Linked DNA regions of Homo sapiens. The protein of the gene in region 1 purifies or fractionates together with the protein of each later gene. This does not show direct contact. Each region holds a gene or a part of one and is shown in the gene's direction. Other genes may lie near its edges. The genes, in order: QPRT, RAVER2, PATL1, ACTR6, ADNP, SATB2 and CRY1.

Region 1 (4,129 bases):
AAATACAAAAATTAGCCAGGGATGATGCTGCATGCCTGTAATCCCAGCTACTCGGGAGGCTGAGGCGGGAGAACCACTTGAACCCGGGAGGCAGAGGTTGCAGTGAGTTGAGATCACACCATTGCACTCCAGCCCAGGCGACAGTGAGACTCCGTCTCAAACAAAAAAAAATTATTTGTGGAGGCAGGGTCCCACTATGTTGCCCAGGCCTCAAGTGGCCCTCCTGCCTTGGCCTCCCATAGCACTGGGATTACAGGTGACAGCCACCGCGCCCAGCCTACTTTTTGTCTGGCCAAGACTACCTCAGCCTTCTTTTGCCTCCCAATCTGTCTCCAGTTGGTGGCTGAAGTGACCCTTCTGGAGCAAAACCATAATCATATCACTCCCTCTTTTAAAATTCTGTGATGGGTCAGGCATGGTGGATCACACTTGTAATCCCAGCACTTTGGGAGGCCGAGGTGGGAGGACTGCTTGAGCCCAGGAGTTCAAGACCAGCCTGGGCAACATAGCGAGACCCCCCGTCTCTACTTAAAAATAATAAAATAAAATGAAAAGAAAATTTTTTTTGAGATGGAGTTTCGCTCTTGTTGCCTAGGCTGGAATACAATGGTGGGATCTCAGCTCACGGCAACCTCCACCTCCCGGGTTCAACCGATTCTCCTGCCTCAGCCTCCTGAGTAGTTGGGATTACAGGCATGTGCCACCATGCCCGGCTAATTTTGTATTTTTAGTAGAGACGGGGTTTCACCATGTTGGTCAGGCTGGACTCGAACTCCTGACCTCAGGTGATCGGCCCACCTCGGCCTCCCAAAGTGCTGGAATTACAGGTGTGAGCCACTGTGTCCGGCCAATAAAATGAAATTTTATGATGGCTTCTGCGATCTGGCCAAATTCCTCAGCTAAATAGTTTAGTTCTTTCTCCCTGTGGCCTCTCCTCCCACCATGTCACCTGTGAATCCCACACTGCCCCCACCCCGACACTGTCTGCAGGTGAACAGATCAGTTTTCTCAGCCCCAAATGTCAGCCCCACCCCACACCTCTGCCTGGCAAACATCACTCACCGGTCCTCAGAGACACCTAGTCATTTATTCCATGAGTCCACCACACTTGAGAAACGCTTCTTTTCTTCGCGAGCACGCCTACCCTGTGCTAGACAGTGTTCCTAAGGGCTTTCAAACATAAAGTCTTTTGTTTTTTGTTTTTGAGACGCAGTCTTGCTCTGTCGCCCAGGCTGGAGTGCGGTGGCACAATCTTGGCTCACTGCAACCTCCGCCTCCCAAGTTCAAGCAATTCTCTGCCTCAGCCTCCCGAGTAGCTGGGATTACAGGCGCTCGGCTTTTTATTTTTTTAATTTTTTTTATTTTTTGTATTTTTAGTAGAGACGGGGTTTCACCATCTTGGCCAGGCTGGTCTTGAACTCCTGACTTCAAGTGGTCCACTTGCCTCGGCCTCCCAAAGTTCTGGGATTATAGGCGTGAGCCACTGTGCCCAGCCTCCAACTCCTGGCCTTGTCTTCCTCCCACCCTGGCTTCCCAGAGTGCTGGGATTAACAGACATGAGCCTCCACACCTGGCAACTTCTTTCCATTTTTCACTGATTCTCTGACACATCCTCATTGAGCACCTGCACTGTGTGGGGTGTTAATAATTGCTAGGCATGGAGGCAACAGCGTGGGCAGCTCTTTCTCTTACTTGTCAGGCTTTAGCCTATGCTGTTGCAGGACTGTGCCTTGGCCTGGAAGCCCCTTCCCTTATCCTCATCCCCAATCTCCCCCTTCAGCTCTTGTTCCTCTTGCAGGTCTTCCCTTAAACATCACTTCCTCAGCAGGGGCCTCACAGACACGCCCGGAGGTTAGATCCTGGTCCCTCTGTGCTTCCTGTTCTTCCCCCATCATCACAGTCTACGGCTGTTTCCTCTCGATGGGCAAAGACTGTGTCTGGCCATTGAGTTTTCTGCTATATCCAAGTGCTTCGTATACTGAACCATATAAATGTGCTGCTTTTATTGGTCAAAACGGCCAAATATTGGCAATTTTATATTGGTTAGCTTCATAGTATGTGAGCTAGGATACTTATCCCATCAGAGAGGTTGCGTAGCACAGTGAATCAGAGCCCAGGCTCTGGGGCCGCACACCTGAGGTCCAGCCCTGGCTCTGCCACTTGTCACTAAGTGATTGTGGACTGGAGACAACCCTCAGGGGCCTTGGGTTCCTAATCTGTGACAGGGATGACAATAATGACCTCCTCGTGCTGTTATAAAATACAGAAATGTACTAAAATACAAAAATTGGCCAGGCATGGTGGCACATGCCTGTAATCCCAGCTACTCAGGAGGCTGAGGCAGGAGAACTCAGGAGGCAGAGGCTGCAGTGAGTCTACTTTTATTGCCAAAGCTCGGGGGTCCATCCCTTTTCCATTGCATGCCACTGCACTCCAGCCTGGGCAACAAAGTGAGACTGTCTCAGAAAAAAGAAAAAGAAAAAAATGTTTAAAAGCCAGGAGTTTGAGACCCTGTCTCTATTAAAAAAAAAAAAAATTACCTTGGCATGGTGGAGCAGCTACTCAGGAGGCTGAGGTGAGAGGACCACATGAGCCCGGGAGTTCAAGGCTGCAGTGAGCCATGATTGCACCACTGCATTCCACTCTGTCTCAAAAAGAAAGAAAGAAAAAAGTCAAGAGAACTGGAGCTGAAACCATGAAAGGTCAGTTTTCAGCAGGAGAGTGATCAAAGAAAACCAGAACTAGACAGTCGTTAAAATAGCAAAAACATATTGCATTCCAGACTATTGCTGTAGGGGAAGAGTGACCTTAGATCAGAACTGGGCTGAACTCTACACCATGGGGGTTATAGCCAACGAGCAGAGTTGGGGGCAGTGGATGGGACATTACCATGAGAAAGCACTGGGGGTTGGGGGTATTCTGACAAGACCAACCTAAAGGGATTCTTGCTGAGGGCAGGCCAAGGTGGTCAGACAGCGCCTGGGGGAGAGTGGAGAATGAGGACCCCCATCAGGGATCGGGGGCAATCAGATGTGGAGGATGAGGGACTGGCTAAGCTGACTTAGCAGTATTCTTGCTAAAATTGGACGATGCAGAGGTGAACACGGAAGTCCAAGGCCTAACTGGAAAAGAGCTGAGGGAACCTGAGTGAGGTTTGGCTATAGACAGAACCTCTGAGTGAGCCCATCAAAGTTACTTTATTTATTTGTTTGTTTATTAATTTATTTAAGACAGAGTCTCACTCTGTCGCCCAGGCTGGAGTACAGTGGTGCTATCTCGGCTCACTGCAAACTCTGCCTCCTAGGTTCAAGCAATTCTCGTGCCTCAGCCTCCCGAGGAGCTGGGATTACAGGCACATGCCACCACACCCAGCTAAGTTTTGTGTTTTTAGTAGGGACAGGGTTTTGCCATGTTGGACAGGCTGGTCTTGAACTCCTGACCTCAGGCTAATTTTTTGTTTGTTTTTATTCTCTTTTTTTTTTTTTTTGAGACTGAGTTTCGCTCTTGTTGGCCAGGCTGGAGTGCAATGGCGCGATATTGACTCACTGCAACCTCTGCCTCCTGGGTTCAAGCGATTCTCCTGCCTCAGCCTCCCGAGTAGCTGGGACTACAGGCGCACACCACCATGCCCGGCTAATTTTTGTATTTTTAGGAGAGACGGGGTTTCATAATATTGGTCAGGCTGGTCTCAAACTCCTGATCTCAGGTGATTCGCCTGCCTCAGCCTCCCAAAGTGCTGGGATTACAGGCGTGAGCCACCGCGCCCAGCCTTTTGTTTGTTTTTAAATTTAACTTTTTTTTTGAGACCGAATTGCACTCTGTCACCCAGGATGGATTGCAATGGCGCAATCTCAGCTCATTGCAACCTCTGCCTCCTGGGTTCAAGAGATTCTCCTGCCTCAGCCTCCCAAGTAGCTGGGATTACAGGCGCCTGCCACCACAGCTGGTTAATTTTTGTGTTTTTAGTAGAGATGAGGTTTTGCCATGTTGGACAGGCTGGTCTTGAACTCCTGACCTCAGGTGATCAACCCACCTTGGCCTCCCAAAGTGCTGGGATTACGGGCATGAGCCACCATGCCCGGCCTTAACTTTTATCTTAAGTTCAGGGGTACATGTGCAGGTTTATTAT
Region 2 (4,129 bases), on another chromosome or scaffold:
CAAAATGCATTACCTTTAAGGCCCATACATTTGAGCTGGCCCCTCCTGCCTCTCAACTCACTGCAGATCGCTGTCCCACTACAACAGCCTGGTTTTGGTCCTCAAAGGACCTTGTTTTTTCCTCCTTTGGTCTTTTCTCCTGCTGGTCCTTCTTCCTGGAACGCTTCCCACCCCAACATCACCTAATTCCCTCCCAGACTTCAACTACAGCCTTCAGATTGCAGTACAATAATTAGTTCCTCCAAGAAACCTTCCTTGAATCTTCCAGGCTAAATAGCATTCCTCCACTATTTGTTCTTATAGCCCCCTGTATTTTTCCTTCATGTGATTACCATGTGTAATCCTGTGTTTTTTTTATTAATTAATGGCTCCCTTCCTTAGGGGATTGTAAGATCTATGAGGGCAGATCTTATTGTACTTCTCACTAAGTAGCACAGTGCCTAGAACATAGAAAGTGCTCAATAAACCTTTGTTGAATGATTAAATGAATAAATAAATGAATGAATAGAATGTCACTGTCATTGAAACCAAAAAGGGTTGAGAGGAGGGAACGAAGGATGAAATAATGTAGAATTATTTCATGACTGCATGGCCCCCTCTTGTGTATTATTAAAATAATTAATTAGCTTTGTCTGATAAGTTGGAGAGTGAAATATGTTTAGAAGCAGTTACTTTTACTCAGATCGACTGGAGAATTGAACTTCAAAATGAATTGGGTTATACAACATGTAGCTTTTCAAAATTAAACTGACAACGTTTTGTCATTTTCACAGAGCTCAGTTATGGGTAATACTTCTAATTTATTCCTTCAGAATCTTTCTCATATACCACTGGCACAACAACAATTAATGAAGTTTGAGAATATTCATACTAATAATGTAAGTATGGTATCATTTTTTCTTTTAAAATCAGTTCATTTCTTTTCTAGAATCAGGCTGTGGATCAGGTTGTTTATGAATTTTCACGTGTGTAGCTTTTTTTAGGTTATATCTTATGGCCATGGGTCTTACCTTTTTTTCTTCTTTTGTAGAAACCCGGCTTACTTGGAGAGCCCCCAGCTGTGGTACTTCAGACTGCACTAGGGATAGGGTCAGTGCTTCCATTGAAAAAGGAGTTGGGACATCATCATGGAGAAGCACATAAAAGTAAATGATGTGTATTTACTGAGAAGTCAGTAAACAGTCAGGTTTGAGATTTAAAGATAGTTTACCTATGTTCTAATTTTATTTACAGGGAGGTCAAATTTGAGTTTTATTTAGTCATTTAAAATTTTGAGAACCCTCTTGGCTTTTCGATTTTCAATATTGGTAAGTTACTGATGGACTTGCTTCCATGCCAAGATAAGACTTCCCCTATTGGATATGCTTTAATATTTTATGCAGGTTCACAGCAGTACAAGGTAAAGACACAGATCCATTTGAGACTGACATGCTGCCCACTGGGCTGACAGCACATATGGATCCATGTAATTATTGCTGGGATAAGAAACCATTCACTTTTATTTTTTAAAATCTAGTATTTATAAATTTAAAGTTTGATTATTTATTTGTATTATTTAAAAAAATTTAACCTCTAAATCAGTAGTCAAAACTAATGTGTGTACTATGTGCTTCTAAAAACATGGCAAACAAAATAGCTTTTTTGGCAGGAAAACAGAAGCATGGTGTTATACTAAGACTTCTTATTTGAATGTGATTTTGAAGGGCATTTTCAGCTTGAAGCTTAATTGAAATTTGCTTAGAAGTGAGCATGCTGAGTAAAAACAGAAGGGCCACCAATAATTTAAAAAAAAGTCAATTAAATATGCGTAGCTTACTTAACCTTTTGTCCAGTGATCAAATAACTTAGTTCTGACTGTTGAAATTGACTGGACAAAAGTTAAGCCAGTGAAGAAATTTTGTGATATCATGGGGTCTGTATTTCCAAAAAATTAAATTTTTTATGTCTAAAAGCTTATGCAAATATGTATTATTTGTGTTGGATTAACTAATAAATTATTTGCTTTAGTATATGCCGCTTTAAGAACACTGAAAAGTCAGTGTCCAAATAACTATATTCTAAACGTTAGGGGAACCAAAGTATCCATCTCTAAATGATTATTACTAAAAATAATTGAAGAAATTTGTTTAGTAAATTTATAAAATGGTAAATCTGACTTAGTTGTCAAAATTAGCTTTTTCCATTTAATTTTGACCTATAGATTTTTTAAAAAGTGGAACGGTTCAGAATTTTCCTATTAAAACTTTTATTTGCCAGCCTGGGCAACATGACAAAACCCTGACTTTACTAAAATGCAAAAAATTAGCCAGGCATGCTGGCACACGCCTGTGGTCCCAGCTACTCAGGAGGCTGGGGTGGGAGAATCACCTAAGCCCAGGAAGTCGAGGCTGCAGTGAGCCATGATTGTGCCACTGCACTCCAGCCTTGGCGATGGGAATGAGACCCTGACTCAAAAAACAAACAAAAAAACCCTTTTATTTCTTCCAGAATTTCTTGTTATTTTCTGTAAATAAAAACATAAAACTTTCATGTATTTAGTGCTTATCTATTAACAAATACTGATTTAAAAAAAGAAACCAGTGATATGCTGATAAGTGTTTAACAACCAGCTCTCTAGGTTGAAAAAAAGGGCTTGATTTGTAGCATTTGTGCATTTCTGTTTGTGAATACTCCAGCTGTGACTGATTTCAAGTTACCAATATGAAGACACTTAACTTGATAGCTGGGAAGAGATGTGTATTAATAGCTCTCATGAGCTGATGGAAGCCAGCTAACCAAATTTATTATTGGAGTCAATCAAACTTCATTAAATTTTAATTTCAGATAACTTTTTAAACTTAAAACTTAATTATTTCCTTCAGTTATGGAAACAGTCAAGTTGCAATGACTGGGCATAAAAAAAAGCACTAATACAGCTTAAATGCCAAAAAGTACATAAACTTTGCCCTCAACTTTAACAATATATAATTAACAATTATATATAGAATTTAAAAACTTAAAAATTCCTTATCATTGAGGTTACCCTGAAAGTTGCTGAAAATAAGAGCATTATTACTATTGTAGGTTTTTGTTTTTTTCATAAAGGAACCCACTAATTAACAACCTCTAACCTTACCTTTTGCTGTTATCTAACAGGTACAAAATTGGTTTCTCTGCATTTTGCTCATAACTTAACAAAATTAAAAGGACTATTGTGAATAAATATTTTCTAACTAAAAGCTTTTTGCATTTATGGTTTGCTACAGCATCTAGCCTGATTCCAACTCAAACAACGATAACAGCTGGAATGGGCATGTTACCATTCTTTCCAAATCAGCACATTGCTGGACAGGCTGGGCCAGGGCACAGTAATACTCAGGAGAAACAGCCAGCCACGGTGGGAATGGCAGAAGGAAATTTCTCAGGGTCGCAGCCTTATCTTCAGAGCTTTCCAAACCTTGCTGCTGGAAGCTTGCTGGTGGGACACCATAAGCAGCAGCAAAGCCAGCCAAAAGGCACAGAGATAAGTTCAGGGGTAAGAAAACTGTGGGTGCACACAGATGTATATATACATGTATATGTATATATATTCCTTTTAAATTATGTCTTAAATTGTCGTGTCAATGAAATGATGACTTTTTCATAGTTTACATTTACTTTTCAAAATTGAAGAAAACATTGCATTCTTTTAAAAAATCTGTTATAAATAAAGCAAACAAAAAATCCATTTTTTGATAAGTTATGCTAGCTGGCATTTGGGACTATCTTAATTATTTGCCAGTTTGTAAGTAAAGTAATTTTAATTTGTGTAAAATGAGTTACGTCTCTTATAAATAATTTAAATGTGGATTCTTTATTCCTTATAAGAGAATAAGGAATTTCCAAAAAGTTTGTGATATACATGGTTTTCAAAAATACTTGCTATTTTAAATATAAGATATAAACTAGTTTAAGTTCAGAATTTTGTAGTTTGAAAAAGCTTAGGAGTATCAATGCTTATTCGCTTACGTAGTAATGTTATTTGTAAGGCTTTCTAAGTACATAGTAATGCTGTTCTTTCAAATATACTTTTTTCTATCTTAAATATATATTTGGTAGCTAATTAAAGTATTTTAATATTTAAAGGCAGAACCAATTTTATCCGGAAAAT
Region 3 (4,592 bases), on another chromosome or scaffold:
CTGCTAGCTTTACCACTTGCCATTGGGTGGTTGGAGGCAAACAATGTCGCTAATCCTCAGGTTCCTCAACTGTAAACTGAGAAAATAACAGTACCTACCTCATGGGGGGCACATAAGGAAGGATTCAATGAGATAATCCATTTTATAAAGCGCCTAGCAGAGTCCCAGGCAGCCTTCAATCGTTAGTAGTGTTACCATCATGAGGCAGGTGTAATTATACCCATTTTACAAGAAACTAAGGCTCAGAGAGGTTTAGGTAAGTTGCCCAAAGTTTCCTAGCCAGTGGCAAAGCACAAGCTCCCACCCAGAACTTTTCTTCACAAATTCAGCGTTTCCGATACTCAAACTGATCCAGACACACTAACATTTAGGGGATTTACTGTATGCCATTCCGAGACGAGGCTGCATTTTAAGACGCCCAGGGAAGAAACGGATTGCGAAACCCAAAAGAATTCATTCTTTGTGCTGCAAGTTTTGTCTGAAAGGAAAGGGGCAAGAAGGGCATGGAGCGTGCTAGAGGTAACAAACCACCCAACAGAATTCTGGAACCAGGGGGCCGAAGCTTCTAAGCTGGACACATTCCTCTGTGGGTTCGATCCTCTAAGGAAGTGGAGTCACCCAGCGGCGCACCACGGCCCGAAGACCCTGCTGCTGCGTGGCCAGCGGCCCACGGCCGTGCGGCCCTTCGAGGCTCTGCAGCTCCTCGCGCCTAATGAGCCTGGCGCTTAAAAATACCACCCTAGTTAAACCTCCCGGAACCTGTCTTCAGCATTTCAAAAAAAAAAAAAAAAAAAACGGGCGCCGTCATCACTTTGAGCCACATAAATCACAGCCCTGACCTGCTGTGGATTCAGCAGGCGACGAGCCGCTGAAAGTGGCGACGAAGTCCGCCCCTTTCGAAGACCAGCAACTTTCCATTCTTTTTTCCCTGCGCAAGGCGCAGATTGCAACGGGGAGACCCCCGAGCAGCCTGAGGAGTGAGTCGGACGTTGGAAAAACTGCCCGGGAATCTCATCTTTCCCAGCCCAGGCTAAGCGCAGGATTCTTCAAAGCTATATCCTGTGACAATCACAAGGGTTTTCTCCGCCCCACGGGTGACGGAGAACTCGTGACCGGCCCCTGAGCTCCAAGCCGAGCGCCTAGAGGGCGCGGAGAAAGAGGGGGCGGAGCTACAAGCCCAGATCACCAGGCAGCCGAAGACGGGCAGCGCGTGCGCAGTCTCTCGCCACGGGACCTCCTTCCCGCCGCTGAGACTAGGAAGCGGGACGCCAAATCTGTCCCTGCGCAGCCGCCGCCGCCGGGCGCCGAGCGGGGTGGCCGCCCTGCCTGAGGCGCGCCTGCGCACGTCCCCACGCACGCTCCGGCGTACGGCGGCGGCCAGGGGTCGCGAGCCGGTGGAGGACCCGCGCGCGGAGGAGCCGGGGAGTCAGCGCTTCTTCCCTCCCTCCCCCTCTCCCCTCCCCGCTCCCTGCCCCCCTCCCCAAGAATGTTCCGCTACGAGGTGAGCTGTTGCGACCGGAAGTGACCCCTCCCTCCCTCCCGCGCCCCTCTCCCTCACTCTCTCTCCGCGCGCCGGTCCTGTGTTCCTGCGGGGCAGGGGGCGGGCTGGGGGAGTCGCAGGACTTAGCTGGACGCGACTGGTCTGGGGTCGCGGGTCTAATCCTAGGGCTGGGAGCTGGCTTCATGGGTCGAGACAGTCCCATTAGTTGCCGCTGGGGAAAGTTGGCCTCCGTTTTGGGGTGGGGAGGGCCCGTTAAGTGCTGTAACCAGACCACACCCCCGCCCCCACCCCTAGAGGAGCCACGGAGGGTAGAGCACTGCATCTCCCCGGGTGCTTTTCTTAAGTAGGTGTCACCCGGGAATTCCCAGAGCCGCGTTTCCCGCCCTGGACCCGGAACCACCCCCCACCCACCTCCACTCGAATTACACTGACACACATCCCATTCACACAGGCTACCTTCAGGTGAAGGGGGCCTGGGCTTGCCGTTGGATTAGGGCCCCAGCCCGTTTACTAAAGAGGGCTCCGAGTTGGGAGGGGGGCGTGTCCTGCAGAAGTTCCTTCTGGGCTAGTGCTGGGAGACGCGGGTTTGGAGAAGGTGCCGGGAATGTAGCAATAGCAGCAGACAGTACTGACCCTGTCACCAACTCACTGTGTGACCTTGAGTGACTCCTAATCTCTGGACGTAAACTTTCTGAATTTGTAGCATGAAAGAACTGATGTAAATGATCCTTAAGAATTTTTAATTTAAAAAAGCAGCGATTTGGTAAAGTAGATATTTGTGATTTGGAAGGGAGTACTGCTGGAAGTTGCCTCTGATAAGGAGGCAGTGGCATGCCTATTGGCATGAGTTTGGAAGGGCTCTGGGGTAAGAAGAACGCCCTTTGACCTAATCTTTCCATTGTAAACAGGGTAGCTAAGAGGTAGCCAGGCAAGGTGTATCACAAACGTACCTACTGATAGAATATGGAATTCTGATTCTGAATTTTTGAAAATTGAGGACAGGTATACTTGATAGGAATGATCTAAGACCAAACCAAAAGGAAAACTTGGAGAATAAATCAGTTGAGTAAGATTGAAGTAAAGGGGGAAAATAGAACACACCTAGGATGTGGTGGCCTCTAGCCTTTGTTCGATAATCTGTAATCTTTGCCCACTTTGATCATCACAACTCTCTGCCATAGTTGGTATTGTCCCTGCATTACAATGTAAGACATTGAGCCTTACAGCCTAGCACAGAACCTTAGACGCAATAGGTCCTTAAAAGGTATTTGATGAATTAATTAGAAATTTTCTGAGTTGCCCATGTTCACACTGATTGTAGGAATGGAGCCAGAACTTGAACTTGTCATACCACAGCTTTTCCAGAGTTCATTTTATTGTGGTTGAAGACCTAATTTTCTGTTTCATCACTAGAGTTTAGGCCTATAGGGAAGATAAGAAAGATGGAAAATGAAGACAAAGCTTTAAAACGGAATAATAGTTGAAAAGATGACATGAATATAATGAGAAAGATGAGAATTTTGCTGGAAAAGATACATAAAGATACAAGAAAATAAAGGGTTCATTATTAATTGTCATCAGTATTCCAACCAGTGATGTAAGGAAAGTTGTGGGCTTAATTTCTTGGTTGCATGAGGAACTGCTGTTCGTGGATTCTTGATAAAATAGAGAAATGGAATGCTGTGAGGTGGGGCAAGAATTAAATGAAATAAGGATTAGGAAATAGAAAGTGAAAGAAAGATGATGAAATCTTCCAGTGTCAGGGAAATTGGGAAGTAGAAAAAAAATGCCATCTTTACAAAAAGTCATAATGAAGCAATTATGTTCATTGAGAAGGTAAGATGAACATTTTTAGAACATTTTTAAAATGAGGGTGTGAATTTCATGAATAACTAATGTCTTTTCTTTTTTTTTAGTCTTTGGAGGATTGTCCTCTGGATGAAGATGAAGATGCATTTCAGGGACTGGGAGAAGAAGATGAAGAGATTGATCAATTCAATGATGATACATTTGGGTCAGGTGCAGTTGGTAAGTGACATCTTTCGCTTATAATATCATCTTAGCCTCCTGCTCTTTTCAAGTGCTGTCTTTTAGAAGTGCTTTATCTTATTAGGGGTAACCTTATTCACTAACTTGGCAAGATATTCTTCTATTCCTCATCTTAGAATAGTTCATTCTTCACTGGAAACAGCACCTATCCTGCTCCTCTGGGTCTCTTTTTGCCTTACCTATAAAATCAGGTATTCTGTAAGCCTTGCCCCTTCCAGCTATATGATCGATGACTACAGGTTGCCCCTATGAGGGATTCAAATGTTTAGAGAAGTAAACATTTAAGAGAGATTTAAATTAATCCTAGATGAGAGGAATTTTTATTTGTATAACATATAACTTATGGAAAACTAGTGTACTAGTAGAAAATTCAGATTCTAGGATGTGGGTATATGTGTTTCAAAATTTAGTCTATCACTAGTATATAACTTTGCAACTTATAGTATCTTCAAAATATAAAGCTTTTTATAGCAAGAATTTTGGGGGTCAAGAAAGGACTCATAAGTTAGAAAAGTATGCACAGATGAAATTTTGTCCATCCCTGGGTATAGATACATATTATTTATTTATTTATTTATTCTTTTTCGAGATGAAGTCTTGCTCTGTCACCCAGGCTGGAGTGCAGTGGCACGATCTTGGCTCACTGCAACCTCCGCCTCCTGAGTTCAAACAGTTCTCCTGCCTCAGGCTCCCGAGTAGCCGGGATTACAGGTGCCCGCCACCACACCGAGCTAACCAGGCTGGTCTCAAACTCCTGACCTCGTGATCCGCCCATCTCGGCCTCCCAAAGTGCTGGGATTACAGGCCTGAGCCACCGCGCCCAGCCTATAGATACATATTTTAAGAGTTGGAAAAAGTTTAAAAACTGAAGAGCCAAACTAAGGTTACAGGCCACGGGGTTATAAATGCCAAGATGGAAAATTTAGGAAGTAAGCTTATATGATAAAGTTTGAGAACACATGTTACTTAGAACAGGTGTAGAACAAGTGGAGTAATAAATTGAAATTTAAATTTTTAAACTGTATACATACACATATATTTG
Region 4 (4,129 bases), on another chromosome or scaffold:
CTTTTAGTCTATGCAGAATAATTATGTTCTCTTTTTGGTGAGAATAATAATATGTTATTAAGGTATACTTAAATATGAAGTAAAAGTATAAAAAACTATGTATGTGAATGATAAAATACCAAATTAGGGGAGTGTCAGCTTATCTGTAAAGTTACATTAAGCTGGTTGGTGAATACATGGGTTTTATATAATTATTTATACTTAGTATGCCTGAAAACAAAAGTGAATTTTTTTGGGCCAGATTATTGAGGTGAAGTATGAATCAGAGTTCAGAGACTACTTGGGGCCTTATAAAACTGAAATCATCCTTTTATGTTCTTAGAAACAGATCCTTATGGCTGTGTGTGGTGGCACACACCTACCTATAATCCCAGCATTTTGGGAGGCTGAAGTGGGAGGATTGTTTGAGACCAGCCTCAGCAACAAAGTGAGACCCTGTCTCTACAAAAAAAAAAAAAAAAATTAAAATTAGCTGGGCATGGTGTCACACACCTGTAGTTCTAGCTACTCAGGAGGCCGAGTTGGGAGGATTGCTTGTGCCCATGAATTTGAGGTTACAGTGAACTATGATCATTTCACTGCACTCCAGAGCTGGGCAACAGAGCCAGATCCTGTCTCTTTAAAAACAAAAGAAACAAAAAACAAAAAGTGAAACAGATCCTTATGAAAGGACCTAGGCTGGCTTTCAGAAATGGGAATTGAGATAGATGATGGGATAAGGTTGCCTGGGCATGTATCAGGTAGAGAGAAACTGGAAGCCCAAGTCCTGGCTAAGATACGGAAGGTGTATTTTTTTTCTTCTTCACAAGACAAGAAAAACTGCCCCAAACATTTAAATACCAAACCTCTTTCTTACTAGGCACATTTGATTATTGTCATATTTTATAGCTGATACCTTGTGGAAATTTTATGGTACTCTATAGGGTTAATAGGGGTAAAGTAATCCTGATTTCTACAGAGATGGATCTGAGTAAAGTCTCAGTGATTTCCAGTCTCCTCAAATCTGACTGATCATTGGAATCTCTTGGGGCACTTGAAAACAAAACAAAACCTGTATCCGTGTTCTCAGTTCCTCTTCCTAGAATTGCCTGTTTCATAAGTTTGAAAACTTAAAACCTCTTCCAGATGATTGGATAGTCAACTAGGAAATCTTTCTTTTTAGAAAAACTCTCCTTCCCTGCAAATTACAACCTATTTGTTTATTGGACATTTTCTTCTAAACTCTGCCAGTTTCTTCCTTGCCAAATCATAAGCCGTGTTTTCTCAAGTGAGTACCTTATGCAATAAGCCAGTAGAGGTGTGGTTATTCTCCCAGTTGACCATTACTTTACTCATCTTTAGAAAAGGCAGAAGCCATATAAGGTTTTTTATTGGCTTTTGACCTTGTGAACACAATCTGGTTATGGACTGTGTGGGCTTCATTTACTCAGGATACACTCTGTTGCTGATTCTCATATATAATGTGTATTTTAATAGCAGATGAGTGGACAAAGTCAGTTGGAACTGGGCTTTTGGCAGATGATACAGTGTTACCGCAAATGTTTATTGTAGAAAGAATGGTTTAATCTTTGTCAATTTCGTTAAAATGTACACCTTATTCAGAGTCTGTGTTAAATCATCTTAATAATTTTTTAAAGATTTAGAAACAGTTGTATTTTATATATTGGAATTTTTTATATTGTTTTGATTTTAATACTTGATTAAAATAAATATTTATTTGAGAGCCTTTATTCCTAGGGTTTTGTTAACACTTGAATTTTGATAGTTTCAAGAATATTTTTAAGTAGCTGGGGGAAGTTACATACTTGATTTTCTAGCACTAATGGTAGTAACAATAGCAATAAAAATAGGCCTGTAATATCATTACAGATAACAACCAATAGAAATTCCAGTTTTCTTTCTTATCAGAAAGAGGAAGCCTACTAATGTATAATGAATTCGACTGACCTAAATTGAGAAAATCGTCCTCATCATGGATTACCACTTTCTGCAGAGCCAGTATAACATACACTGATCATTTCTTTAATTGTACTGGAACTAACTTTTTGTTTGGTTTGAGACGGAGTCTCGTTCTATAGCCCAGGCTGGAGCACAGCGGTGTGATCACAGCTCACTGCAGCTTTGACCTCTCAGGCTCAAGTGATCCTCCCACCTTAGCCTCCCAAGTAGCTGGGACCACAGATGGTCACCACCAAGCCTGACTAAGTTTTTAAAAAGTTATTTGTAGAGACGAGGTACCACGCTCATCTATGTTGCCCAGGCTAGCCTCAACTCCTGGGCCCAAGTGATCCTCCCGCTTTGGCCTCCAAAGTGCTGGGTTATAGGCGTGAGCCAGTGTGCCCAGCCTCCAGATTACTTGTTAATGGTTAATGGCTTTAGTGCTAACATTTAACAAGGATGTCTAGTTCTGGCTCTCTCCCCTAGTTAGTCATTTAATCTAGAATAAGTCACATGATCCTCTTCTGTCAATCAGGGCTATAAACTAGATAACCTCTAATGTTTTGTCAACTGAAATTCCTAAGTCTGCAACTATCTCAGGTTATTTTGAATGTTGATAAAATGAGTTATATCCCTTAAACTCAAGTCAGTGAATGGCTGGAATTTAATGAATTTGTAAATTCATAGAAAATATTTTCCATTCTGCTTGAGAAGGAAGAATACTTCTATGAGGCATAATATTCTTCTCTTTGTTACTATATAACAATATTTTGGGTTAAAAGTGATTTATAGTTTTCTGGGTTAAAAGTGATTTATAGTTTTCTGTTCTTCCTGGAGTATTTGTGAATACTGTATAATTTTCAGGATATTTTTTATTTTAGAATAATGTTTTGAGCATGGAATTCCCAAATGATCAAAATCTAACCATTTATATCCAGGTTATGAGTGGTAGTATCATGGAAGGAATATTTTGTATGTGCTTTGGATTATGATATGAATGACCTTGAACAAGTAATGTAGCCTTGCAGAGCCCAATTGCATCATTAATTTAAAAGGAAAATATGCCCGTGTTACAGGGTTATATGAGAGTTCAGTGGGATAATGTATGTAATATGTTTAATGAATGACATGTTGCTGTCTTGCTTACTATTATTCAAGAATTCATGGAGTATCTACTGTGTGCCAGGTACTTTTTTATGATAGTTAGTGGATATGTGATGGTGAACAATATAAGCTATGAAGGATAATATAGGGTGATAGAGAATAGTGAAGGATCTTTTTATTTGGGAAGCAGAGAAAACCTCTCAGGAAGCTGAAATCTGAATAGAGAGTAGATGGCTGATTATATTAAGGGACCTATCCTTTTATGGGAGGACAACTGCATTTATAAGTCAAATGAAATGAATGTCTTTACCTGAATCTAGGAAAGCTGATGGTTGTAAAATTGAGAGGGACCATTATTTTAATGATTTAGAATATTGTGGAAGGAGATTATTTTTGCAGCCCCCTCAGCACTACAGCTCACAGATTGGGTGGGTTAGCAGAAAATAAATAACAAGAAAATATGAGTCATGGTTGTTTAAAGTTTGTTATACATAGGCCTCATATAAAGTTAGCATTATAAGGTAAGTTCAAGGATAAGGACCATGGACTTGCTTACATCATTTGGAAACTAATTTTGAATAGAGATTGAATACATATTAAAGAAATGTAGAGATGTAGGCTCTTTCCAGAAGGGAAAGGGGGAATCCTAATAGAATAGAGCCACATATCCAGTAAACACCTAAATTAGGGGAGTGAAAGTAGACAGTACTAGAAACACAAGACATAGTAAATGTTTTTTATTTAGAATGTGTTCTTTGTTCCCTAGAAACTAGAATCATTGTACCATTATAGGTATATTATGAAGTTCTCTCTTGTCTCTCCTCCTTTTTTTCTTTGTATTTTAATTTTTGTTTTGTTTTTTAAGAGACGGGGGTCTCGCTATGTTTCCCAGGCTGTCTTGAACTCCCGGGCTCAAGTGATCCATCCGCCTTGACCTCCCAAAGTGCTGGGATTACAGGTGTGAGCCAGGGCACCTGGCCCTCTTTGTATTTTAAAGTGTGTGGAATAAAGCTGCCAAATTATCTTTGAAGGAACAGCCATATTAGCGTCAGTAATTATTTAGTTGTGTTTTGTGTGATTTTGGCAA
Region 5 (4,129 bases), on another chromosome or scaffold:
ACCCTCAAGAAAATTCAGTGAAGGATTTAGCAGTGCAGACCTCAGCAAGCTCCTTAAGTCTGAAAACACGTGGCCGGGCTTGGTGGCTCACGCCTGTAATCCCAGCATTTTGGGAGGCCGAGGCTGGTGGATCATCTGAGGTCAGGAGTTCAAGACCAGCCTGGCCGACATGGTGAAACCCCGTCTCTACTAAAAATACAAAAAAATTAGCCGGGCGTGGTGGTGGGGCGCCTGTAATCCCAGCCACGAGGCTGAGGCAGGAGAATCGCTTGAACCCGGGAAGTGCAGGTTGCAGTGAGCCGAGATTGTGCCATTGCACTCCAGCTTGGGTGACAAGAGCAAAAAAACTGCATCTCAAACAACAACAAAAAAGTTTGAAAACATGGATCTCAATACCAAAAGGTTTTTATTAATAGAGAAGAATATTCATGGTTCATTATCTGCTTACAATCAAATCTATGATGAAAAAAGGAAACAAAGCACCGTGGGCTTATTCTTGGTAAGTGTGAGACCTCCTCAAGAAAAGCCTAAGGCAGGTCCTTCTGCAGTTATCCAGAAGAAGGCATTGTTACCATGGGAGATGGCAGTTCCATGTGTGTTACTGTTCCTGAAGACCCTCCAGTGGGACAAGATGTAAAGGTGGAAGATAGTGATACTGTTGATTCTGACTCTCTGTAGGCCTAGACTAACGTATGCGTTTGTGTCTTAGCTTTTAAGAAAAAAAATGTTTTTAAAGTTTTTGGTTTTTTTTTGAGACGGGGTCTTGCTCTTGTCGCCCAGGCTGGAGTGCAATGGCACGATCTCAGCTCACTGCAACCTCAGTCTCCTGAGTAGCTGGAATTAGAGGCGCCTGCCACCACGTCCGGTTAATTTTTTGTATTTTTAGTAGAGATGAGGTTTCACCATGTTGGCCAGGCTGGTGTCGAACTCCTGTCCTTGTGATCCACCTGCCTTGGCCTCCCAAAGTGCTGGGAAAGTTTTTTTTTAAAACAAATTTTTTTAAGCTTATAGAATAGGCATATGAAGATAGAAAATATTTTTGTACGGCTGTACAATGTGTTTGTTTTGGGGGTTTTTGTTTGTTTCTGAGACGGAGTCTCGCTGTGTTGCCCAGGCTAGAGTGCTGTGCTGTGATCTTGGCTCACTGCAACCTCTGCCTCCTGGATTCAAGTGATTCTCCTGCCTCAGCCTCCCGAGTAGCTGGGATTACAGGTGCCTGCCACCATGTGCAGCTATTTTTTTTATTTTCAGTAAAGGTAGGGTTTCACCATGTTGGTCAGGCTGGTCTCAAGCTCTTGACCTCAGGTGATCCACCCGCCTGGGCCTCCCAAAGTGCTGAGATTACAGGTGTGAGCCACTGTGCCTGGCCAATCTGTTTGTGTTTTAAGCTAAGTATTACTACAAAAGAGTCAAAAAGTTAAAAATTTAAAAGTGTATAAACCACAGCAAGCTGAGGTTATTATTGAAGAAAAAATATTTTTTAGGGCTCGGCACAGCGGCTTGCAATCCCAGCACTTTGGGAAGCCAAAGCGGGAGGATTGCTCGAGCCCAGGAGTTCAAGGCCAGCCTGGGCAACAGAGGGAGACCCTGTCTCTACAAAATTTACCCTAGTGTGGTGGCACACACCTGTAGTCCCCAGGACTGAGGCGGAGGTGGGAGGATCGCATGAGCCCAAGAGGTTGAGGCTGCAGTGAGCCGATTGTGCCACTGCACTCCAGCCTGAGCAACAAAGTGAGACTTTGTCTCAAAATTTTTTTTTTAGTAAAACTTGTGTAGCCTAAGTGTTCATAAAGTCTACAGTAGTGTACAGTAATGTCCCAGGCTTTCATATTGACTCACCCAGAGTAACTTCTAGTCCTGTAAGCTTTGTTCATGGTATCATTTATCTTTTACATTGTATTTTTACTGTACCTTTTCTGTGCTCAGCTATGTTTAAACATACAAATATTTACCATTGTGTTAATCATTGCCTATGGTAATCAGTACAGAAACATGCTGTACAGGTTTGTAGCCTAAGAGCAATAAGCTATGCCATGTAGCCTAGGCGTGTAGTAGGTTCTACCATCTAGGTCTGTGTGAATACACACTTGAGGATTTCACACCATGATACATTTTTCAGAATGCATCCCTGTGGTTTAGCAACACATGACTGTATAGTAAACCTGAAGTCTTTAGTAACTTCCTTCATTTAGGTTATTCTTGTTATTTCTAGCTGCAAAATGTTTATCTTCAAGTCATTTGTCTTTGGTTTAGCTAAAATGTGACTTTTTTTCCCTAAACATTGAGAAAGAACTTAGCATTTTTTTAATTTACACTGACAAAAATATTTGGTTTAAGATAGCTTTTTTTTTGAGTTTCTATTTTATAAAGTTACTATACAAAAGGGGAAAACATACTAAAATCAGTGCTTTTTTTTGAGACAGTTTCGCTCTTGTCGCCCAGGCTGGAGTGCAATGGCCGATCTCGGCTCGTTGCAACCTCCACCTCCCAGCTTCAGGCGATTCTCCTGCCTCACCCTCCTGAAGTAGCTGGGATTACAGGCGCCCACCACCACGCTCAGCTTATTTTTTTGTATTTTTAGTTGAGATGGGGTTTCACCATGTTGGCCAGGCTGCTCTTGAACTCCTGACCTTGGGTGATCCACCCACCTCAGCCTCCCAAAGTGCTGGGATTACAGGCGTGAGCCACCACGCGCGGCCTAAAATCAATGCATTATTAAGAATATCCGGGGGGGATCTGGAATCTGTTAACTGCCTATCTGAAGTGGCATTCTAATTCTAGTTTTTGTGTTTACTTTAGGACTATCGGACAAAACCTTTCTGCTGCAGCGCTTGTCCATTTTCCTCAAAATTCTTCTCTGCCTACAAAAGTCATTTCCGCAATGTCCATAGTGAAGACTTTGAAAATAGGATTCTCCTTAATTGCCCCTACTGTACCTTCAATGCAGACAAAAAGACTTTGGAAACACACATTAAAATATTTCATGCTCCGAACGCCAGCGCACCAAGTAGCAGCCTCAGCACTTTCAAAGATAAAAACAAAAATGATGGCCTTAAACCTAAGCAGGCTGACAGTGTAGAGCAAGCTGTTTATTACTGTAAGAAGTGCACTTACCGAGATCCTCTTTATGAAATAGTTAGGAAGCACATTTACAGGGAACATTTTCAGCATGTGGCAGCACCTTACATAGCAAAGGCAGGAGAAAAATCACTCAATGGGGCAGTCCCCTTAGGCTCGAATGCCCGAGAAGAGAGTAGTATTCACTGCAAGCGATGCCTTTTCATGCCAAAGTCCTATGAAGCTTTGGTACAGCATGTCATCGAAGACCATGAACGTATAGGCTATCAGGTCACTGCCATGATTGGGCACACAAATGTAGTGGTTCCCCGATCCAAACCCTTGATGCTAATTGCTCCCAAACCTCAAGACAAGAAGAGCATGGGACTCCCACCAAGGATCGGTTCCCTTGCTTCTGGAAATGTCCGGTCTTTACCATCACAGCAGATGGTGAATCGACTCTCAATACCAAAGCCTAACTTAAATTCTACAGGAGTCAACATGATGTCCAGTGTTCATCTGCAGCAGAACAACTATGGAGTCAAATCTGTAGGCCAGGGTTACAGTGTTGGTCAGTCAATGAGACTGGGTCTAGGTGGCAACGCACCAGTTTCCATTCCTCAACAATCTCAGTCTGTAAAGCAGTTACTTCCAAGTGGAAACGGAAGGTCTTATGGGCTTGGGTCAGAGCAGAGGTCCCAGGCACCAGCAAGATACTCCCTGCAGTCTGCTAATGCCTCTTCTCTCTCATCGGGCCAGTTAAAGTCTCCTTCCCTCTCTCAGTCACAGGCATCCAGAGTGTTAGGTCAGTCCAGTTCCAAACCTGCTGCAGCTGCCACAGGCCCTCCCCCAGGTAACACTTCCTCAACTCAAAAGTGGAAAATATGTACAATCTGTAATGAGCTTTTTCCTGAAAATGTCTATAGTGTGCACTTCGAAAAAGAACATAAAGCTGAGAAAGTCCCAGCAGTAGCCAACTACATTATGAAAATACACAATTTTACTAGCAAATGCCTCTACTGTAATCGCTATTTACCCACAGATACTCTGCTCAACCATATGTTAATTCATG
Region 6 (4,885 bases), on another chromosome or scaffold:
CTCAGGGCCGGCGGGGATGCGTCCACATTTTCTCGCCTAAGGTCCTAGCGGCTAATGTCCGCCGACGCCCCGGGTATCTCGCGGGGGCTGCGGCCCCTGCCCACGTGCTTTTCCTTAAGGAGGCAGCGCGCCCAAGCGGAATCGCAGGGACAAAAGCGCGGCCAGAGGCCAGCCTGCTCGGCTAGTGCCCGCGCCACCTTAAATGAGCACCGCGGCCGGAGTCGGGCTGCCGGCGGCCGCGGCCGCGGGAGTCGGCAAAAGTTTGTGGCTCTGTTACGCCTTCGCGGGACCTGCTGGGGACGCTCCTGTGCGGCCTCCCCCCGGGCGGGGAGGCCGGGTCCTCAGGGCACAGCTCTGTTGGCGCCAGCAGCCCTGGGCTCGAGCAGCTTGGGGTCCCCAGGAGCCCCAGTCCTGTAGCCCGAGGACAGGCAGCCCCACCGCCCTCGCCGCCACCGCGTCACGGGCTCCAGGCGGCCCGGTTTGCACCGCTCGCGATGTCGCCGGAGCGGCGAGCGCTCCAGCGATGCCATCCAGGGATGCACCCCGCTCTGCATCCACCACGCAACCCCCATTCCTGTGCCACCCACAGCCCGGCGGGCAGTGGCCGTGCTCCTGGCATTCGGGACACCCCGACTATTGTTCCGGACTCGCGGCCGTGCCAGCTTTGAAGGAGAAGCGGCCTTCCCTGCGCGCGCGGCGGCACGAAGCGCGGCGGGCCGGGACGTTCGGCTCGGCGCGGAGGGGGAGCTCGCAGGCACCGGGAAAAGTTGCTCGGAGGGGCGGAGGCGGTGGGTGGTGGGCGGAGGCGGTGGGTGGGGGAGGCGATCGCCCTCCTATCTCCAAAGTCGAAAGTACTCCGCGCAGTTAACAGAGCTGGGAGCCGAGGCAGCCGCGGTCGCCTCTTGCGCGTCGGTCTGCGTCTCCGCCGGCAGACGCGGCACCCAGCGACTGCCTTGTCGCCGCCGCCTCCGCGCCGGGACGAGTGCGCCTAGGGGCTGGGCGAGGCGGCCGCGCCCTGGACCCGCCACAAGGAGGAGGACCAGACCCTGGGCCCCGGTGCCCGCCTGCGCCCAGACGCACCCACCCGCTGGCCGCGGCCACCGCCTCGCGCCGCACTCGGTTCTCTGCCATCGGTCCTTCGCCGCCTCGTGCATGAGGTCCTCGTCACCCCGCTCCGACCGCCGACTCTCCCCTTCCTCTTCCCTCCTCCCTGCCTCCCACCCGCCCCTCGCCTGTCCCTCTGCCTCCTTCGCAGCCCCGCCGCCGTTGGGTCGCCGTGCTCACAGCGATTGATTGATTGATGTTTAATTTCCTGCCAGGCGGGGCCCCCCTCCCCCCGCAACCTCCCCAGCCCTCCTCCCCGCCCCCCACTCCCCTCTTTTCTTGCGGTGGACCAGTCTGGCTTGGGTTTAGATCCATCCCCCCCACCCCCATCCCGAAATAATCCAGAGACTTCCCCTACCCCCACCCCAAATTATTATTTTGAAGGCGCTAGATCTGGGGACCGAAAGGGGGAGGGGGAGAAATCGGAAACCGAGGACAACCCAAAAGGACTCACTTTGCCTGATGACTCAACGCAACTAATAATCATCTCCCTCTCAGTGTGTCTCTCTCTGCGGCTTGTCAGTGAGTCCGGCTCTGGCTGCTGGCAGAGGCGGCCGAGAGGGGAGAGGCTGGAGGTGACAGCTTGGGCGGCCGCCGCGTTTCCTCCCGCGCGCGGTCCCGGGTCCCTGCGTCTTCTCGGCTCTTGGTGTTACCGGTCCCACCGCTCTGGCCGCGCCTCCTCGCGAGCTAGCCGCCCTGCGAACCAGCAGCCCCGGCTCGCCGCCGCCGCCGCCGCCTCCGGGTTCTCAGCCCTTTCTCTCCAGAACGGGTCTCCTTCCCGAAGGTGTGAAAAGGCTCTTTCAGCCTCCTTCTCTTCCCCCCTCCTCCGCCGTCCCCTCCCCCGCTCGCTCGGGTGTCCCTTTGGAGGAGTCCTTTCCCTCTCCTCCTCCTCCCCCTCCTCCCTCCCCCCATCATCATCATAACAACCATCTCCGCACCAGAAGAAGACACCCTGACCCAGGACCTTAAACATTAGGACCTGGGGAAGAGGGAAGGGGAAGGAGTAAAGAGGAAGACTAGGAGAACACTGCAAAGCCAAGCACCAGAAACTTTCCACCCTGGATTCTCTACTTTTGCTCCATGGACAGAGCCCCAGTCAGCCAAGTTTCAGACAGACCGTGAGCAGTAAGTACGCAGGGCGAGGGCTCCCGCGCCGCGCTCGGGAGTTCGGGGAAGCCCAGGGCCAACGAAGTCCCCTCCCCGCCGCTCTCGGCCTCTCGGACCGCGAAGTCGGGGAATGCAGGCGGAAGCCTCGCCCTCAGCCCTCCTGCTCCGTGTCTTCATCTCGCATCCTTCCTTTCACCTCCCCCTGCCACCCCCACCTTGTCTCCTTGACCCGTGGCGCCGACACTGCTCGCGCGGCCAGAGCGCCCACGAGGATTCCCAGCGCGCACGCAGTACGGTGCCGGGGTCTTGCTTCTTGCGGGTGTCAGTGACAACGCGAGCGCCGTTTCATCAGGTGTTTCCCCTCCTTCCCCGCCCCCCCCCACCCCCCCAATCCAGGGGTGTCGAGACCTGCGGCTTCCGTGGGGAGCGCACTGCCAACCTAGTGACCCAGAGGAAAACTTTCTGGAGCGATGTTAAAATTGGGGCGGATGAAGGCTGCTCTTGCACTAAGAATTCAAATGCTTTTTGCTTTTGTGTTTTATATTGAAGAGCTTTAAAAAAGCACTGGGGATCAGATGAAGATAAGAACGCTCCAAAATAATAACGATTGTAGCGCCCGCCTTTGTGATGGAGGTTATTCTGATAAATACCTCCAAGTGTTTTCGGATGCTTATTAATGTGGAATTAGGGTTGATTTTATGCAGGTGTGTGCTTATCTCAGGACTTGCTCCGTATAGGTAAAAAGCGGGTATTCAAGGGGTTCTTTCGCCCGGCCTTTGGCTCCTGCCTGGCCATTCACAGCGCATTTACCGGGTGGTTAATTCGGTTATGGACTTGCGCACACCCCCAACTCCCTTCCCATGTGGGTGGAACGTCTTTTTCTGAAGTTCACTTATTCCGCAACCCTGACCCCGGGACGGGCTAGGCTGTAGCACCCAGGAACGGTTTATGCCAACCCCGTCCCAATGAATGGACCACTTCTAGGCGCCCCTGGGTGCCAACCCCGGCCGCGACCCCGAGGGCTGACTTCTGGGGAGCTGCGACTGGGCAGAGTCGCCGAACCGAGGCGCTGGGCTTCCTGGGGGCCGCCCAGTGTAAGGTTGGGACCGGCTTCCCGGCTCGGGCCCCTCGGGCAGCGTGGGAGGAAGTTTGTGTGGCTGTGGTGCAGCGCTCTGCCACTGGCCTGAACGTCTATCACGTGTATGAGCGGTTTTCCCTCTTTTTTCTCCCTCCCCCTTCCTCCCCCCACCCCCTCCCTAGGTCCCTGTGCGTTTTATTGCGACCTGCCGGTGGGAACTTTGTCTCCGAGTCGGAGCAGCATGGAGCGGCGGAGCGAGAGCCCGTGTCTGCGGGACAGCCCCGACCGGCGGAGCGGCAGCCCGGACGTCAAGGGGCCTCCCCCAGTGAAGGTGGCCCGGCTGGAGCAGAACGGCAGCCCCATGGGAGCCCGCGGGAGGCCCAACGGCGCCGTGGCCAAGGCCGTGGGAGGTAACAGCCCGGAGCAGGGAGGCGCGCAGCCCGCGGCCCAGTGATAATGGCCCGGGTGTCAGGGTTCAGGTTGATTAGGCGCTGTCGCGGTGTAGGATTACAGGAAGTGAATTCCAGGTTGCCAAATAATGCCCCCGTCGCCTCTCATCTGCAACTGGTAGCTTCATCTCCAGTTAAAACAAGAAAGTGGTTTTACCCAGAGGGTGGCATTTTTTGGGCATTTTGCCACTGTGTGCTGAGGTGTTGGCAGGTTTATGTCACAGCCAGCTAACTGTTTCTAGATTTTCCTAGAGAGCTTTTTAGTGATTTAACTCTTTTGCCTTGCCTCGGAGTGTCTGTTGTAGGGATGAAGTTCACGTGCGTTCGCTTTTAGGGAATAAAATAGTCATTAATGCTCAGGCGAGTACAGGAACAAGGAGAGTTGATGTTACTTTGTAGTGAGGACAGTGCTTCAAGACAGATGAATGACAACTGGGAATATTTCCTGCCACGTGAAATGTGGGAAATAAAGAATCACCATGAATCCATCAGGCCCTTAGAAGCTTAAATGCTGCTGTTGTCTATAAAGTTTAGTCATATGCATTCGTAACTTTATTATGAATTATAGGAGAACAGATAAAAATAGCAAAGTAGCCTTATCAACTAGATGTAGTTTCCCCTCCAAAGAATTTATTAATAATTTTATTTAAAGAAAATCTTTTGTAGTTTTTACTACTTAAGCAACTACTTTCTTTTAAAGTGGTCAGGAAAAGCAATCATACAAAATAAAGATATGGGAGAAATTTAAACATTGAAATATTTTGGAGTTTGTATGCCATTTGCTTAGTTGTCTTTTACATGTAAAATCCACAATTCCACATGGCATGCAGGTTTTCTGTGTGTTTGGCATAAATCACTAGTTTAATTTTTTTTGCCTCTAACGTTTTTTCTCTAATAATTTCAACAGTAGCCCATTTAATATTCAATATATTAACTTGTCTTAAATGATATAAAACCTTGGCAAACCTTAATGATAAGCTCCCACCCCCTTGTTGTAAGTGTCTATTGTGTGTATTTCAAAATAGTTACTTACATCTAAAAATGTTCATTCCTCCTTAAAGAGTTGAACACATACGTTTTATAAAATCGTATTTTTTTCTTTTTACTTATTTTGCTATTTCTATTTCTTCATGGTAAATACTTAGGA
Region 7 (4,129 bases), on another chromosome or scaffold:
TGTCGACTGTTTTACTTCAAACTAACAGATCTCTACAAAAAGGTATTCTCTAAAATTAGAGCTTATTGTTTAATACTTTAAAAAAAAATTCTGATAATACTTCTTTGCTTTTTAACCATAGGTAAAGAAGAACAGTTCCCCTCCCCTTTCCCTTTATGGGCAACTGTTATGGCGTGAATTTTTCTATACAGCAGCAACAAATAATCCACGCTTTGATAAAATGGAAGGAAACCCTATCTGTGTTCAGATTCCTTGGGATAAAAATCCTGAGGCTTTAGCCAAATGGGCGGAAGGCCGGACAGGCTTTCCATGGATTGATGCCATCATGACACAGCTTCGTCAGGAGGGTTGGATTCATCATCTAGCCAGGCATGCAGTTGCTTGCTTCCTGACACGAGGGGACCTGTGGATTAGTTGGGAAGAAGGAATGAAGGTAAGTGTTCTAACTGATATAGCATGCCTTATTTTGAAGGAATCCTTACCTTAATAAAACAAATCCTAGAAGTTGTCTGTTTATAGATTCATTTATGGTGTAGTTTTTCAGTGGATAAAACATTTAATTCCCCAAATACGGGGACACTTTCAGAGAAAAATGGTATAATCAGACAAGCAAAAAGGTGAAAACTGGTTAAATTGATTAACCTAAAGTCATTTTAATGGTTAAACCAGCCTAGCCACTAAGAGAACTGTAAAATTTAACACTGAATTTGTTGATAGATATATTTATAGGTGATATTTCTATCACGAAAAGAATTCACTAAAGAGTTCCTAGAGATAGTGAATTCATATTATAAATTTTAAAATATAAATCATTTCACCTCACTTCTCAGCTTTTTAGTAATACTTCTATTATGTAAAGAGAAGCATACTACATTTTGTGACGACATCTTGTGGATTACACGTAATAAGACTTAGGTACTTTTTTTTTTTTTTTTTTTTTGAGACGGAGTCTCTCACTCTGTAGCCCAGGCCGGGGTGCAATGACGTGATCTCAGCTCACTGCAACCTACGCCTTCCAGGTTCAAGTGATTCTCCTGCCTCAACCTCCCGAGTAGCTGGGATTACAGGTGCCCACCACTGTGCCCAGCTAATTTTGCATTTTTAGTAGAGAGAGGGTTTTACCATATTGCCCAGGCTGGTCTTGAACTCCTGACCTCAAATGATCCCCCTGCCTCAGCCTCCCAAAGTGCTGGGATTACACGCATGAGCCACCGTGCCCGGCCATTACGTACATTTTTTACCTTTCTGGCAATACCATACATTTGCCCCATCCAAGGACCATTTCTGAGCTTGTGTGTGTGTGTGTGTGTGTGTGTGTGTGTGTTTAATCTCTTATATTTCCTAGTACACCGTTGTATACAAAGACAATATATAACATACTTAATGAATATATATAAAAATCATTTATTTTAATTCTATTTTCTTTCTGATCAAGGAATTCGAAATTAAACTATGTAATGCTAGTATATATTTTTAAGTGAATTTATATTTGAGTATGCTTCCTTTATTTAGGCTAGAATATGAAGCTAAGTTTTTGTTGGTGTTTTATGTAATAGCATTTTTGCTTTCTTGAAAGTGGTTGACTGCTTTTCCTGTGTCTACTAATAATATCCTTTTAAATCCACATCCTTTTAAATCAGTGATTTGAATATTTTTTTTACCTTCCATTCTCCCAGTAACACTGCAGAGGTTGGAAAAGTAAATTCTCTTCAGAAGCATACTATATTACCACTATGTTTCTTTCTCTGGAAGAGCTCATTATAGAACAGAACATAGGGAAGCTAACTTTGGAATGTTTAATTTTACAATTCTGTGCTAGATTTTCTTTGCCTTGACTTTGGCTCTACTGTGACCTTGAAAATGCTTGCTTTGCGAATTATGTGTGTGCAAACTAATTGGTTACTGTTACTTCTGAAGGTATTTGAAGAATTATTGCTTGATGCAGATTGGAGCATAAATGCTGGAAGTTGGATGTGGCTGTCTTGTAGTTCCTTTTTTCAACAGTTTTTTCACTGCTATTGCCCTGTTGGTTTTGGTAGGAGAACAGATCCCAATGGAGACTATATCAGGTAAATCAAGGGTGATTACTACTCAGTTTGGAATAGTTAATTCAAGAAGAGCTTTTCATGTTTAATCAATGCTTAAAGTATTCCCCACTCATGATGGGCAGCAGAGATGAGAAGGGTAAACAGATCATTTAAATGGTCTTGATTTGATTTTGGTCTGTCATAGCTAGTAGTTATAGTTTGCTTAGAGTGCATTTTATTAGTAATCTTTCTTTTTTCTCCCAAAGGCGTTATTTGCCTGTCCTAAGAGGCTTCCCTGCAAAATATATCTATGATCCCTGGAATGCACCAGAAGGTATCCAAAAGGTAGCCAAATGTTTGATAGGAGTTAATTATCCTAAACCAATGGTGAACCATGCTGAGGCAAGCCGTTTGAATATCGAAAGGATGAAACAGATCTATCAGCAGCTTTCACGATATAGAGGACTAGGTATGTTAAGAACTGTCTTTGTTTCTTTGGCAGCTGTTTATGTACTTATCTTTGAATTTTATCTTGATCATAATTTAAAAGAAAATTTTTTTGTCCTTTAGGTCTTCTGGCATCAGTACCTTCTAATCCTAATGGGAATGGAGGCTTCATGGGATATTCTGCAGAAAATATCCCAGGTTGTAGCAGCAGTGGAAGTAAGTGAAAAGGAAATTTCTGCACTTAGTAACATGAAGAGGTTATTAAACAAATATATTTGTTATTGATCCTCACTAACATATTTTATAAAAATCTGTCTTTGAAATTAGCTTAATAGATTCTTTGTATGCATGCATACATGTGCACCCAGACACATCTCTTCACTCCATTGATGACATTTTAGAGATGGAAAATATCATTACGTATAATAGATACTGGGTCAAGTTAAAGCTCTTGCAAACTGAGGAGAGCAATTTTAAGGATAAAATGAAACTCAAATGTCATATTTTCAGAATGCTTATTATTTTTTACTCCTTAGGTGTATGGCAACTATAAGGTAATTAGTTAAGAAAGTCAGTGGCCCTGTGAACATGGCCAAAAGATTTATTGTACACATGCATAGAGCCCTCTAGTCTTTTTGCACATAAGTTTTTCTTATAAAGTCTGGTCTGTAGTAGTTTTCTGTATGATACAAATTTAGTGACCATGTAAATTCTTATGTGTGATATTAATAATTTCAGGAACTCAGTATGTGTTAGAAATTTGAACCATCATATTAGTTTTTGGCTTTGACCAAAAATAGCATGAAGCTCAGTAATTTGATTAAAAAATAGGACAGCATCAGTGAGAATGGTGATTATTAAAAAGTCAAGAAACAACAGATGCTGGTGAGGATGCAGAGAAAAAGGAAGGCTTTTACATTGTTGATGGGATTGTAAATTAGTTCAACCATTGTGGAAGAGAGTGTGGTGATTCCTCAAAGATCTAGAAGCAGGAATACCATTTGACTGAGCAATCCCATTACTGGGTATATACCCAAAGGAATATAAATCATTCTGTTATAAAGATACATGCACACGTATGTTCATTGCAGCACTATTCACATTAGCAAAGACGTGGAATCAACCTAAATGCCAGTCGATGATAGACTAGATAAAGAAAATGTGGTACATATGTACCATGAAATACTATGCAGCCATAAAAAGGAACGAGATCATGTTCTTTGCAGGGACATGATGGAGCTTGTAGCCATTATCCTCAGCAAACTAAGGCAGGAACAGAAAACCAAACACCTCATGTTCTTGCTTGTAAGTGGAAGTAGAATGATGAGAACACATGGATACATGCGGAGAACAACACATACTGGGGCCAGGTGCAGTAGCTCACACTTGTAATCCCAGCACTTTGGGAGGCCGAGGTGGGTGGATCACCTGAGGTTGGGAGTTTGAGACCAGCCCCTGACCAACATGGAGAAACCCCCGTCTCTACTAAAAAGACAAAATTGGCCGGGCGTGGTAGCGCATGCCTGTAATCCCAGCTACTTGGGAGGCTGAGGCAGGAGAATCACTTGAACCCAGGAGGCAGAGGTTGTGGTGAGCTGAGATCGCGCCATTGCACTCCAGCCTGGATAACAAGAGCAAAACTCCATCTCAAAAAC

What was found.
Region 2: the proteins of QPRT (region 1) and RAVER2 purify together in Homo sapiens (affinity purification with mass spectrometry; 3 studies listed by BioGRID and IntAct, with this or other methods). This does not show direct contact.
Region 3: the proteins of QPRT (region 1) and PATL1 purify together in Homo sapiens (affinity purification with mass spectrometry; 4 studies listed by BioGRID and IntAct, with this or other methods). This does not show direct contact.
Region 4: the proteins of QPRT (region 1) and ACTR6 purify together in Homo sapiens (affinity purification with mass spectrometry; 3 studies listed by BioGRID and IntAct, with this or other methods). This does not show direct contact.
Region 5: the proteins of QPRT (region 1) and ADNP purify together in Homo sapiens (affinity purification with mass spectrometry; 3 studies listed by BioGRID and IntAct, with this or other methods). This does not show direct contact.
Region 6: the proteins of QPRT (region 1) and SATB2 purify together in Homo sapiens (affinity purification with mass spectrometry; 3 studies listed by BioGRID and IntAct, with this or other methods). This does not show direct contact.
Region 7: the proteins of QPRT (region 1) and CRY1 purify together in Homo sapiens (affinity purification with mass spectrometry; 3 studies listed by BioGRID and IntAct, with this or other methods). This does not show direct contact.

What each region holds. Positions count from the first base shown.
Region 1 is NC_000016.10:29,685,311-29,689,439, forward strand, and holds part of QPRT (nicotinate-nucleotide pyrophosphorylase [carboxylating]), read left to right. Parts: intron 1-4,129. UniProt on the Homo sapiens protein: Involved in the catabolism of quinolinic acid (QA).
Region 2 is NC_000001.11:64,803,961-64,808,089, forward strand, and holds part of RAVER2 (ribonucleoprotein PTB-binding 2), read left to right. Parts: intron 1-773; coding exon 774-878; intron 879-1,030; coding exon 1,031-1,145; intron 1,146-3,245; coding exon 3,246-3,514; intron 3,515-4,129. UniProt on the Homo sapiens protein: May bind single-stranded nucleic acids.
Region 3 is NC_000011.10:59,665,790-59,670,381, reverse strand, and holds the start of PATL1 (protein PAT1 homolog 1), read left to right. Parts: upstream 1-1,344; 5' UTR 1,345-1,486; coding exon 1,487-1,501; intron 1,502-3,417; coding exon 3,418-3,529; intron 3,530-4,592. UniProt on the Homo sapiens protein: RNA-binding protein involved in deadenylation-dependent decapping of mRNAs, leading to the degradation of mRNAs. Acts as a scaffold protein that connects deadenylation and decapping machinery.
Region 4 is NC_000012.12:100,214,118-100,218,246, forward strand, and holds part of ACTR6 (actin-related protein 6), read left to right. Parts: intron 1-4,129. UniProt on the Homo sapiens protein: Required for formation and/or maintenance of proper nucleolar structure and function. Plays a dual role in the regulation of ribosomal DNA (rDNA) transcription.
Region 5 is NC_000020.11:50,893,183-50,897,311, reverse strand, and holds part of ADNP (activity-dependent neuroprotector homeobox protein), read left to right. Parts: intron 1-2,799; coding exon 2,800-4,129.
Region 6 is NC_000002.12:199,454,683-199,459,567, reverse strand, and holds the start of SATB2 (DNA-binding protein SATB2), read left to right. Parts: upstream 1-1,628; 5' UTR 1,629-2,229; intron 2,230-3,471; 5' UTR 3,472-3,530; coding exon 3,531-3,699; intron 3,700-4,885. UniProt on the Homo sapiens protein: Binds to DNA, at nuclear matrix- or scaffold-associated regions. Thought to recognize the sugar-phosphate structure of double-stranded DNA.
Region 7 is NC_000012.12:106,995,855-106,999,983, reverse strand, and holds part of CRY1 (cryptochrome-1), read left to right. Parts: coding exon 1-42; intron 43-121; coding exon 122-433; intron 434-1,917; coding exon 1,918-2,069; intron 2,070-2,293; coding exon 2,294-2,496; intron 2,497-2,597; coding exon 2,598-2,690; intron 2,691-4,129.